Regions from separate parts of the Homo sapiens genome. Here region 1 is linked to region 2. The links come from fine-mapping of genetic effects on gene expression. Tissue or cell type: lung. Region 2 holds a variant in brackets; the other region holds the start of a gene. All regions are shown on one strand. Distances are between the middles of the regions.

Region 1 (5,224 bases), 21 kb after region 2:
ATTCAAATTTCTTTATTCAGGGAAGGGCTAGATACAAAACACTCATCTCAAAAATCACCAATCTATTAATAATTCAGCCATAAAGTAGCAGTTTTTGAAATAAATGAGTTTAAAGTCAACCAATAGTTTTTATACTAGTTTTCATGCTAAAAAAAAAAAAAGAAAGAAAGAAAAGAAAACCACAAAAACCTTTATTTAGAAAACCTTCGGGTCAGAAAAATACTTATGAAATTCTTAATCATCATTCACTTAGCAGAGAGCAGTGGCTCCCTTGGGCACAGAGGGCACCCTGCTTCTACAAAGTGCACGCCACAGCCAAACATATCCCTCCACACAAAACCAGAATGCCACCAGAAAAACTGCGACATGCCCTGCCTTCAGGCGGTCGCTATTATTTGAAAACGCAGAAGTCAGCATTTGTGGGCTATTTTGTAGTCAGTAGCACCACTGCAGGCTGGGTCAGGCTCGAGAGGAACCTCCATTGCCAGGATCCCCGGAAAGAATGACCGCCTCCCGACTCAAGCCCTGAGCTTGACGCCCTGCTGCCGGGCAGAGCAACATTAATGAGAAGAAAAAACATCCTTCCTCAAAGTCAGGTAATTTTTCACTTGGGTCTCTTTCCCCTTCCCAGAGAGATGTGAGACTTGACAAGTTTGTAAGTAGGCTTTAAGTTGGAAAAACAGAGCACGGGATGATACTACACAAGGAAAAAACATGGAGCCTGCCCAAAATTAAATGTTTCAATGGGGAATCCTAATAAAACATGTACCTTGATGCAGTTCATTAACCACTTAATTTATTAAAGTTTTACTCCCCTACAAAAGGTATAAGAAGCCAAGGGAGTGAAATATTCGATTAATAGTACTGATTATTGTCTATTTAAAAGATAAGAAATCCAAGCTAGCAAAAGCATAGTTATAAATAATAATCAAAATAAATACTTGGTTCATGAAAACGCCAAAAAGAGCTACTAAAGAGTCCTTCGCATTCTATTCTGACTTGGATTTAAACTGTGTGTAACCCACACATTTAAAGGATGTGCATCTCAAATCCTGGAGGACTGCGGGAGAAAATTTAAATTTCAGATTTAAATGGCTGGCAAAATTTTAAAACAAATGTAATGAAAACCCAAGTTTTCATTCCTTCTATTGCTTGGCACATTTTCCCTGGAAATCCCCAGACACATTTTGTTCAGGAAACAAAGAACTCCAAGATTGAGACAATTCTTTGCTAACTCAAAAAAAAAAAAAAAAAAAAAAGCGAAAATAGATTTTCAGGATGCCCCATAAATAAATAAATGAATCTAAGCAGAAAACAGGTTGCAACTCGAGTAGTCCCTGCCTTCAAAACTGCTTGCAAAACAAAACTCCCTGGAGCGCATTCAGGTTGCTCCTCCCAGGCCTAGGGCCACAACGCCTGGTAAATAACGTCCCGGCGCTCAGGGCCTCTTTCCCAAAAGCCCGACGTGGGAACAACTAGCAGGGGGCGGGGAGGTGGGGCGGGCTGCAAAACGCGCACGGCTCACGTGGGCATCTAGAGTCCAGCTCCCGAGACCCGGTCAAAGCAGGGACAGGATCTCTTCCCCACCCACCCAAATGACGCCCTCGGTCTGTTTCCGCTGGGATCCGGAGAAGCTGACCCTCTCACCGGGGGGTCTTCCCGGGGCGCCTAGGCCAGGGCGGGCCCCCAGCGTCGTCCTCTCCCACCCCCCCACTCCCCTGCCCACACATTCTGGATCAAAGCAGACATGCGGCCGGCGCTCTGCGATCCAAGGCACACTGGGGTCTTTCATCCGGTGTTTTTAAAAAGGAGGAAACAAAAGGCTCAGAGGCAGGGCCCCAGGTGCGCTCGCCCGCGGGGGCTGCGGCGCGGACGACCGAAGGTAACAGGCACGTCCCGGCCGAACTTCGAGACCCGGGCCCGGCAGCCGCCCCGGCGGGGAAGTTTCGTTTCCCGGACAGGGGAAGCCGAAGCGCCTCCTCGGGACAGGACCCCGCGCCGCCGGGACGCGCAGCCTTGATACAAACGTCCTTGGGTGGCCGAGGAGTCCAGGAGTCGTTGCAGTCGTGGTCTCGGGGTTACTGGGGATTGGGGGTGAGCCGGTAGAGACTGCGGAGCCCCGAGCACCACTCGGCCACCAGACAGGACCGGGGCCCCGCTCCTTTCCTCTTTTACTTTGATTACGGTTGGAGAGGTTGGGTTTTGTGGTCGCAGCCCCACCTCGCCTGACCTCCCATTCGCGGGCTGGGACAAAGGCGGCTGCAGCCGTGTCCAGCAGGCAGGGGACAGCCCCGCGCGGGCCCGACGCCCCCTCTGACCACCCGCCCGGGCTCGCGGGAGGGGAGAAAGGTACGACCGAGTCCCTGTTCGCAGGACAGGGGCCAACCTGTCCCCGCACGCGTCAGGACACCCGGTCCTGCTCCCAGCGCGGCCGGGAAGTTCTTTCGGGACCTGGGGCAAAAAAACCTTTCCACCTTCGGGACCCGAGTCTCCCAGTCGTCCAGAGGAGGACGGTCCCTCCCTGTCCCGCGAGCCCCGCAGCCCGCGCTCTCCGGGCAGGTACCCACCAGTAGCCGTCCGAGTTCTGGTCGGTGATCACGCCGCGCCGAGAATAGTACATCCTGCTGGTGCCCCCGCCGCCGCTGGTCACCTCGTAGCGCAGGTCCGGGCCAGACTCGGCGCGGATCATGCGGCCCAGAGTGTTGATCCGCGGGTGGGAGCCTCCGTTGCAGCTCATGTCGGCGGGCAATCGGGAGAGCGGCTCAGCGCCGAGGCATAAGCGAGGCGGGCCGGCGCGGAGAAAGCGGAGGGGGCCAAGGATAGGCGGACGGCCGGGGAACCGGGCGGGAGTGCGGAAGGCTCGCGAGGTCGCTGCTCGCTACCTGGGCCCTCCCGAGGCCGCTGCGAGCGCGGAGACGGCGACGGGCCGGGGGCAGGAGCGGGAGGAAAGCTGTGGCTCGGAGGGCGGCAAGGGCGCAGAGGAGCTGCGTCGGAGCTGGGTGTTGGTGTTGGTCGGCGGCGGAGCGAGTCTCCTCCCCGCTGGCACTGGGCGCCTAGGCCACACCTGGCCGGTTTCTTCCCAGGGTGGGGTGCGGCCGCCGCGCCTTCCCCGCCCCCCCGCGGGTGTCACCGACGCGCTCCGGCCGCCCCTCCCCACCTGCGCCCGCCGCCCGCGACTCCGCCCTGCGCCACCGAGGCCTGAGTAACACCGGGCGGGGCGGGGGCGGGGTCCCCGAGACCCAAGCGCCCTGGGCGAAGCCACCGCGGGGAGGACCTGCGCTCGCGGGGGCTGCTGCGCTCTGCGCTGGGGCCTCTCGGGCTGGGAATGCGTGGCCCGGCTTTTGAGGATTTCCTCGGTCCCCGGGCGGAAATAGCTGGAATGGAGGGGCCTCTCGATTGGAGACTTACTGGTCAAATATTTACTTTTGTTGATCACTGGAAACGCTACCTACCACGCATTGACTAGGACCACAGTGAGGAGGGAACGCTTTAGATGATAGAGTTTTGTTTGGGGGCTTTTTTTTGTTTTGTTTTATTCCAGGAATTCAGGAAATTGCCCCAGAAGTCCGATTTCTGATGTGTAAAACCTTTTTTTACAGAAAACCACGACTTCCTGGAAAAGTCTTCACCGTAAATATTAATCTCTTTGGCATGAAGAGGAAAACACTGCAGCTAATTTTTCATGGGATAACAAAAATATAAACTGCAATTTCTTTTATTTTTTCCCTTTCGATGGTCTTTTTAAACGAGGAGTAAAGATTTCAACGCCAGGTCCATTTTCCAAATTTTGTACCAGAACCTTGAGGATGCTTGTCTCTCGCGCGCTTCTCCGCAGACCGAACCCTCTCCGGAACTCAGAGCTGTTCACCCAAGTCAGCGGAGGAGGCCTCCTGGGACTTGAGCCTGAGGGTGGCGAAGAACCCTAGGCAGAGATCATCAACTTGGTACCGATGAGTGACGCGGAGCTTGAACATTCCAGCGACTTGCTCCAGGGCCACTCCCAGTTAAGAGGCTGAGTGTTAACTGCAAGAGGCTGAGTGTTAACTACGCCGTTGGCTCCAGGAACCGAACCGGGTTTGGATACAGACCCAGTCACACCATCCATGAAAAGCTGTTTCTATAATATGAAAAATTGTTAAATGACGCTTTAGTAAAAGCCATTTAAAGATCTTTTCTAATAAATTTTTCATCTTTCCAAACAATGCCGCTAATTACCTTCTGATACAGTGCGTTTCCAAAATGTTTATGAACTGAAAACAAAAATAAAAAACTACATTTTTATGTTGTAAAGGGAGTGGGGGGGACTTTCTAAAATTTGTCGTATTATAGCACTTCTCATGACAACTTGACCCTTTAGGCATAATTTTTGACAAAATGTCTTGTTCTTTTTCTTTTTACAGCTGAACGTCTTAAATTCAAGGAGTAAACACATATAATGAGATAAAAGTTTATCACTGTTAGCACAACCAATAATTTGCATCGTAGTCTCAATTTCCTCGAATCTTTAATAAAACCAAAGTGGTCAAGTGTTTAAATGATTATACAGATTGAGTACCCCTTATCCAAAATGCTTGGGACCAGAAATATTTTGGATTCTGGATTTTCTTGGATTTTGCAATAGTTGCATAGACGTAACGAGAGATCTTTGGGGATGGAACTCAAGCCTAAACATGAAATTTATTTATGTTTTCTATATGCCTTATACACATGGCCTGAAGGTAATTTTATACAATATTTTAGATAATTTTGTGCATGAAACAAAGTTTTGACTGCACTTTGACTGCAAGTCATCACATGAGGTCAGGTGTGGAATTCGCCACTTGTGGTCATCATGTCAGTGCTCAGAAAGTTTGGATTTGGGAGCATTTTGGATTTCAGATTTTCAGATTAGGGATGCTCAACCTGTACAAACACTGATCTATAGACAAGACGGTGGTTTTTCTCAAACAGAATCAATGGCTGGAAGTCAGCCTCTGCACAAACAGCCCATAATATCCATTGGTGGAGGAGAGAAAGACATGCATGGAGGGAAAATGTCAGTGCATAATGTACAACATTTCATTTAGGATGTTTTCCCTCTATGCATCTCATTTGTTCAGCAAATAATTATAACCTAGGATATGGAAATACTCTGCAACATACAAAGATAAATAGGGTCCAGTCACTGCCCTTAAATATATTATAGTAAAACTTTGATTTAAGAAATTCAGGGGCCCGTGCGGTG
Region 2 (5,224 bases):
TTATTTTAAGTTCAGGGATACATGTGCAGGTTTGTTACACAGGTAAACTTGTATCACAGGGATTTGTTGTACAGGTTATTTCATCACCCACGATTAAGCCTAGTACCCATTAGTTATCTTGCCTGATCCTCTCCCTCCTTCCACCTCCACCCTCTGCCCTCCGAAAGGCCCCAGTGTGTGTTGTTGCCCTCGATGTATCCATGTATTCTCATCATTTAGTTCCCACTCCTAAGTGAGAACATGTGGTATTTGGTTTTCTGTTCCCGCATAAGTTTGCTAAGGATAATGGCCTCCACACGGAGAAGTTTTCAGGAAGGAAGGATTTTTCACGACCATTTCAAAGAAGGCTGAATTGCAAGTGGCTGATTAAATTATTAATAGACCAATCATTCCCCGAGACCCCAGCTCTTCAAGGCAACAGGCTCAAGACAAGCATCTACAGCCGCGTGGGGTGAACTTACGGAGAAGGCCTCCTGTTTCTGAGCGATGTTGGTGTTCTTGTCGCTCCAGTCGTACAGCAGCTCCTCCTCCTCGCAGTCATTGATCCACATGATCTCCCTGGACGTGGCCTGAATGATGTTCTGCAGCTGTCGCAGGTGATCCATCCTCTCAAAGGACGCTTTCTGCACAGGAGGTTCAAAGGCAGCATTAAAATAACAATATGCAGTGACTGGTGTTCTCTGCAGGTTTAAAGATTAAACCTGTGGTCCCTTTAAAAAAAAAATCACACGGATAGGAAAAATGTTAACCTTGTGCATTCACTGACCACCTGGTATGGGAAAAGACCCATCCAAATCTGCAATGAACAAGAAGGCAGCAACTTTTTTTTTTTTGAGACGGACTGTCGCTCTCGTCTCCCAGGCTGGAGTGCAGTGGCATGAGCGATCTCGGTTCACTGCAACCTCCCCCTCCCGGGTTTAAGCGATTCTCCTGCCTCAGCTTCCCGAGTAGGTGGGATTACAGACATGCACCACCACGTCCTGCTAATTTTTGTATTTTTAGTAGAGACGGGGTTTCACCAGTTGGCCAGGCTGGTCTCGAACTCCCAACCTCAGATGATCCGCCCACCTCGGCCCCCCAAAGTGCTGGAATTATGGGCGTGAGCCACCACACCTGGCCTTAAATTTTTTTTATTCTTCTAAATAAGGTCTTTTTTTGGTATTTTTTACTGATATAGTTGTACATATTTGGGGGTACACATGATATCTGGACACATGTATACAATGTATAATGATCAAATCAGGATAAGTGGGATATCCATCACCTCGAACATTTATCTTTTCTGTGTGTTGGGAACATTACAAATATTTTCTTCAAGCTATTTTGAAATATACAATAAATTATCATTAACTATAATATCCCTATTGTACTATCAAATATTAGAACTTACTCCTTCTATCTAACTGTATTTTTGTACCCATCAATAATTAGTTTTGGACTATAAGGGGGAAAATGGACTGTTAGAGAAATCAAGCTTTTCCTACCTTCTCCCCAAAAATTCAAAGTGCCATAAGTCACACCCCAGCCCAATAGGAAAATCACTGTGTCACCACGAGTGACATTATTTAAAAAGTATCATTGCCAACAAGGAAACATTAAAAAGTAAAGATATGATGACACAAATAGGCAAAAGAATGGAAATCTCTCCTCTTATGAATCAAGTAACTGATATGACTGAGTGTCATAAAATTGTGATGACGATCTGGTAGACCTCTATCTTGAGAAAAATAACTTTTATTTTTGCTTACACTTCGTAAAAAAGACCACAATTCACAAGTGGCAACGTTTTCTTGCTTCAACTGCAAGTACTTAACAAGTGCCATTTATGTGACACAACTTGAAAACAGAACAGCAGTAGGGACTGACTTCTGAAAACAACTTTTAGGCCGGGCGCAGTGGCTCACGCCTGTAATCCCAGCACTTTGGAAGGCCAAGGCGGGCGGATCACTTGAGGTCAGGAGTTTGAGACCACCCTGGTTAACATGGTGAACATGGTGAAACCCTGTCTCTACTTAAAAGAAAAAAAGAAAAGAAAACAACTTTTAAAATTCACTTCTAAAGGAAACTCAGCAGCAGCAACAACATTAGCATCGATGAACAGGTGCCTCCCCGCCAGGATGTGCTTGATATTTCTTGAACTGAATTGAATTGGAAACAACAGAAAGTCGATGCACTTGAGAAATAAATCAGCTTACCAGCAGGTTTTCATACTCCTCCTCCAACTGGTAGATCGCAGATTTCTCGCGCTAGAAGACAACAAAAAGCAGGTAGATATAAATCCCCTTGTGGATTGTATAGAAAAGAGTGGCCCTTCTAAGCCTCCTTTTCTTCAGATACTGGCCTCAGATCCCTCCATAGAAAGAAAGAATTACTAGCTCTATGAGATATTTCACCCATGGGGACTTTTTCCTAGGCGGTTGGAAAGCAAACCCTTGCTGGCCTGGCAGCACCGTCTCCACAAAGGAAAGCCCAGATCAGGGTCACTTAAAGACTCACGTGTTAGAAAATTGTCTTAAAGTTTAAAGACATCATTTAGGATTCCCTAGGTCTTAGAGAAATGAAGGAGAAAGTTGGTCAGGGGCTCAGGTGGACAAAAGTAAGCCCCAAAAAGCCAGAAGAAGAAATGAGGATGAGAAGCTATGGTCTCAGGTAAAAAAAAAAAAAAAAAGTTTAGTGATTTACAAGTGTAGAGACCTGCGGGAAACTAAGCACTTAAGATCAGTTATGATTTTATGCTGTAATTCTCAACCCAGTTTCAAGTCTGACTTTTTTCAGCATGGGAGCGGGTGTCGGGATGACATATGGCTTTGCTCAGTAGAAATAATGTTTTAATTACCACCTAGGAAAGGATTCACCAATGACACAAACTACTGTATAAGACTGTTGCATTTCCCCTATTCAAAAAGATGTTCTGCTTACCGCAGAAACAAACTGCCACCCCTAAAGAGACTTATTCACAAACTGCAAATGAGTGTTTGCACA[A/C]CCTCAGCCTCTGGTTTAACTCCTCTTCAAGTGTTAACATAATCTCTAATAGGGCTACTGATTCCACTTCCCCATTTAAGAAGTGGGATTTCTAAACATTTCCAGTCTTCTGGGAAAGAAATAATAGCAATGTTTCAGAAGAAACTCCCTGGGATTGAGTAATTACACGATCCTTCGGTAGATATTTTGAAGACTCTAAAATGAAACACAGACAAGTACCAGGTCGGCTTTGATTTTGTCCAGCTGCCAGCGATAGTCGCCGATGGAGTTGTGGATGCCCCGGTGGCTGTTAATGTGCTGCTCCACTGAGGCCAGGTCCACACCCCAGGCCACCATGTCCATCTCCGCCTGCGACACAAAGACAAAGAGAGGCGCCCTTTGTTGTTGCCCCTTTGCACCTGTTTCACTTACGCACACCATCACGGCTTTACTTCAGATAGAACCAAAGATGTAAATATGGAGTATTTTTGAAGCCAGAATATTTTTTAAAGGTTCCCAAATGGCTAATGCAGGGTTGCCAAATACTTCCCTCAACTTGCTTGACCCCAGCTCAAGATGGGCAGAGAAGGAAATTTAGAAATGGGAACCTGAAAACCAAGATCATGTCTTCTGAAAAAAAAAAAAAACCAAATCTACCTGTGCACAGGCAAGCAAGCATGTGCACAGAACATATGTGTGCATATATATGTATGATATGTTATAAAATACTCATTTAATCATTCTTAAATGTGCATAAAAAAATCATTAAATAAATGCAATCATACACTGTTCCCCAAACTAAATAGTCAACCTAAAAGCATCTTTCATTGTTTATTTCTTTATATTGTCTTGATGGATGTAATTATTGGCTTTTTAAAATCCAGGATATACCATTCCCTTTTAGGATGCAAAACTCCCTATGGGCCACTTCAAAGGGAAGTCACTATATCTACTCAAGGATTCAATTTCCATGAGTGTTGGCAATATTAGGATTGTGGACTTAAGTTACCTTTTTTAAAAAATTAAATCTGACTAAATTTATTATTTGAGCCTCAAATTTAAGAATGTTTCACAATAAGAATCACACACACTGTTCCGCCAGTTCCACACTGGGGCAAGTCCATTATCTCACCCTTCTTTTGCATGAGTACATGTAAATTTCCAAATCACCTGTGTCATCTCTTGGACATGCCAAGGGCAAACATTCCAATCTGGGATTGCAGCAAGAACATAAAACACATTGTTCTAAGCCACATCCATGTTCTAATACACTTGGCAAGGCTTCAGAAAGGGGAGCCATTTCAGAGTCAGACAACAGAAGGTTACCCGGGACTTTGACCCTTCTCTCCCACAGCTGTCTCGGCTTTAAACCAGAGACAGCCAGGTGCGTGCAGTGGGACATTAGCAACGTGACCAGGCTCCAGCTCAGGCGTCTCATTACCAGCCAGGTGTATCGTATCTGACCTGTCCATCGGCAAACACAAATCGGGAAAACAAAACAAAAACCTGGCTCAGGAGTGCCTGCCTCCTGACTGGCTGCTGGGGCAACAGTTCCCTTATCAGCTGGGCCCTGCAGCTCAGTCTCCTGGGAATGAGGTAAAGCATGCAGGGGAACAAGCGATAAGAGGAAAGGAGCCACAGCAAATCCCAGAGCGAACCTGCAGTAAGCAATCAAACAGCTTTTAGTTTGTTTGCAACCATGAGGGCTGCGTGCCTAACCCGGAAAGCATCGCTTATCAATTGCTTCTGTTAGAAAACGACATAAAACTGGCTGGGCGTGGTGGCTCACACCTGTAAACCCAATACTTTGGGAGGCCAAGGCGGGCGGATCACAAGGTCAGGAGTTCGAGATCAGCCTGACCAATATGGCAAAACCCCCGTCTCTACTAAAAATGCAAAAAATCAGCTTGCCATGGTGGCACACGCCTGTAGTCCCAGATACTCGGCAGGCTGAAGCAGGAGAATTGCTTGAACCCGGGAGATAGAGGTTGCAGTGAGACGAGATCATGCCACTGCACTCCTGCCTGGGCAACAGAGTGAGACTCCCTCTCAAAAAAAAAAAAAAGAAAATGACATAAAACTGAATTCATGTGGTAATACTTTTCCAAAATTTAAAGACATTGAGCATTTACTACATTCTTAAGCTACACCCAACATAAATACAAAAAAATGACAAATTACAGGCTGTCTTTTTTTATAACTGTCATACTAAGAAAACTTTAGGAGATATGACATTTCAAACTAATTTGATTGGAAGGCTGTT

What was found. PIP is the estimated chance that this variant, and not a neighbour inherited with it, causes the effect.
Region 1: DSP starts here. The variant in region 2 is fine-mapped to the expression of DSP in lung (GTEx, PIP above 0.99).

Annotation. Positions count from the first base shown.
Region 1 is chr6:7,539,429-7,544,652 of GRCh38, reverse strand. It overlaps DSP (desmoplakin), which reads right to left and starts at 2,982. Exons shown (of 24, transcript NM_004415.4): 1 at 2,568-2,982. The coding sequence starts at 2,737. DSP-AS1 (DSP antisense RNA 1) reads left to right here and starts at 1,570. Exons shown (of 2, transcript NR_183331.1): 1 at 1,570-1,607; 2 at 3,600-4,202. RefSeq lists an enhancer at 4,994-5,224.
Region 2 is chr6:7,560,758-7,565,981 of GRCh38, reverse strand. DSP (desmoplakin) reads right to left here. Exons shown (of 24, transcript NM_004415.4): 5 at 3,202-3,330; 6 at 2,196-2,246; 7 at 462-623. Among named protein-coding and RNA genes, the nearest start is that of DSP-AS1, 20 kb to the right of the region's middle. RefSeq lists an enhancer at 3,480-5,055. The variant A/C (reference allele first, on the strand shown) is at 2,983.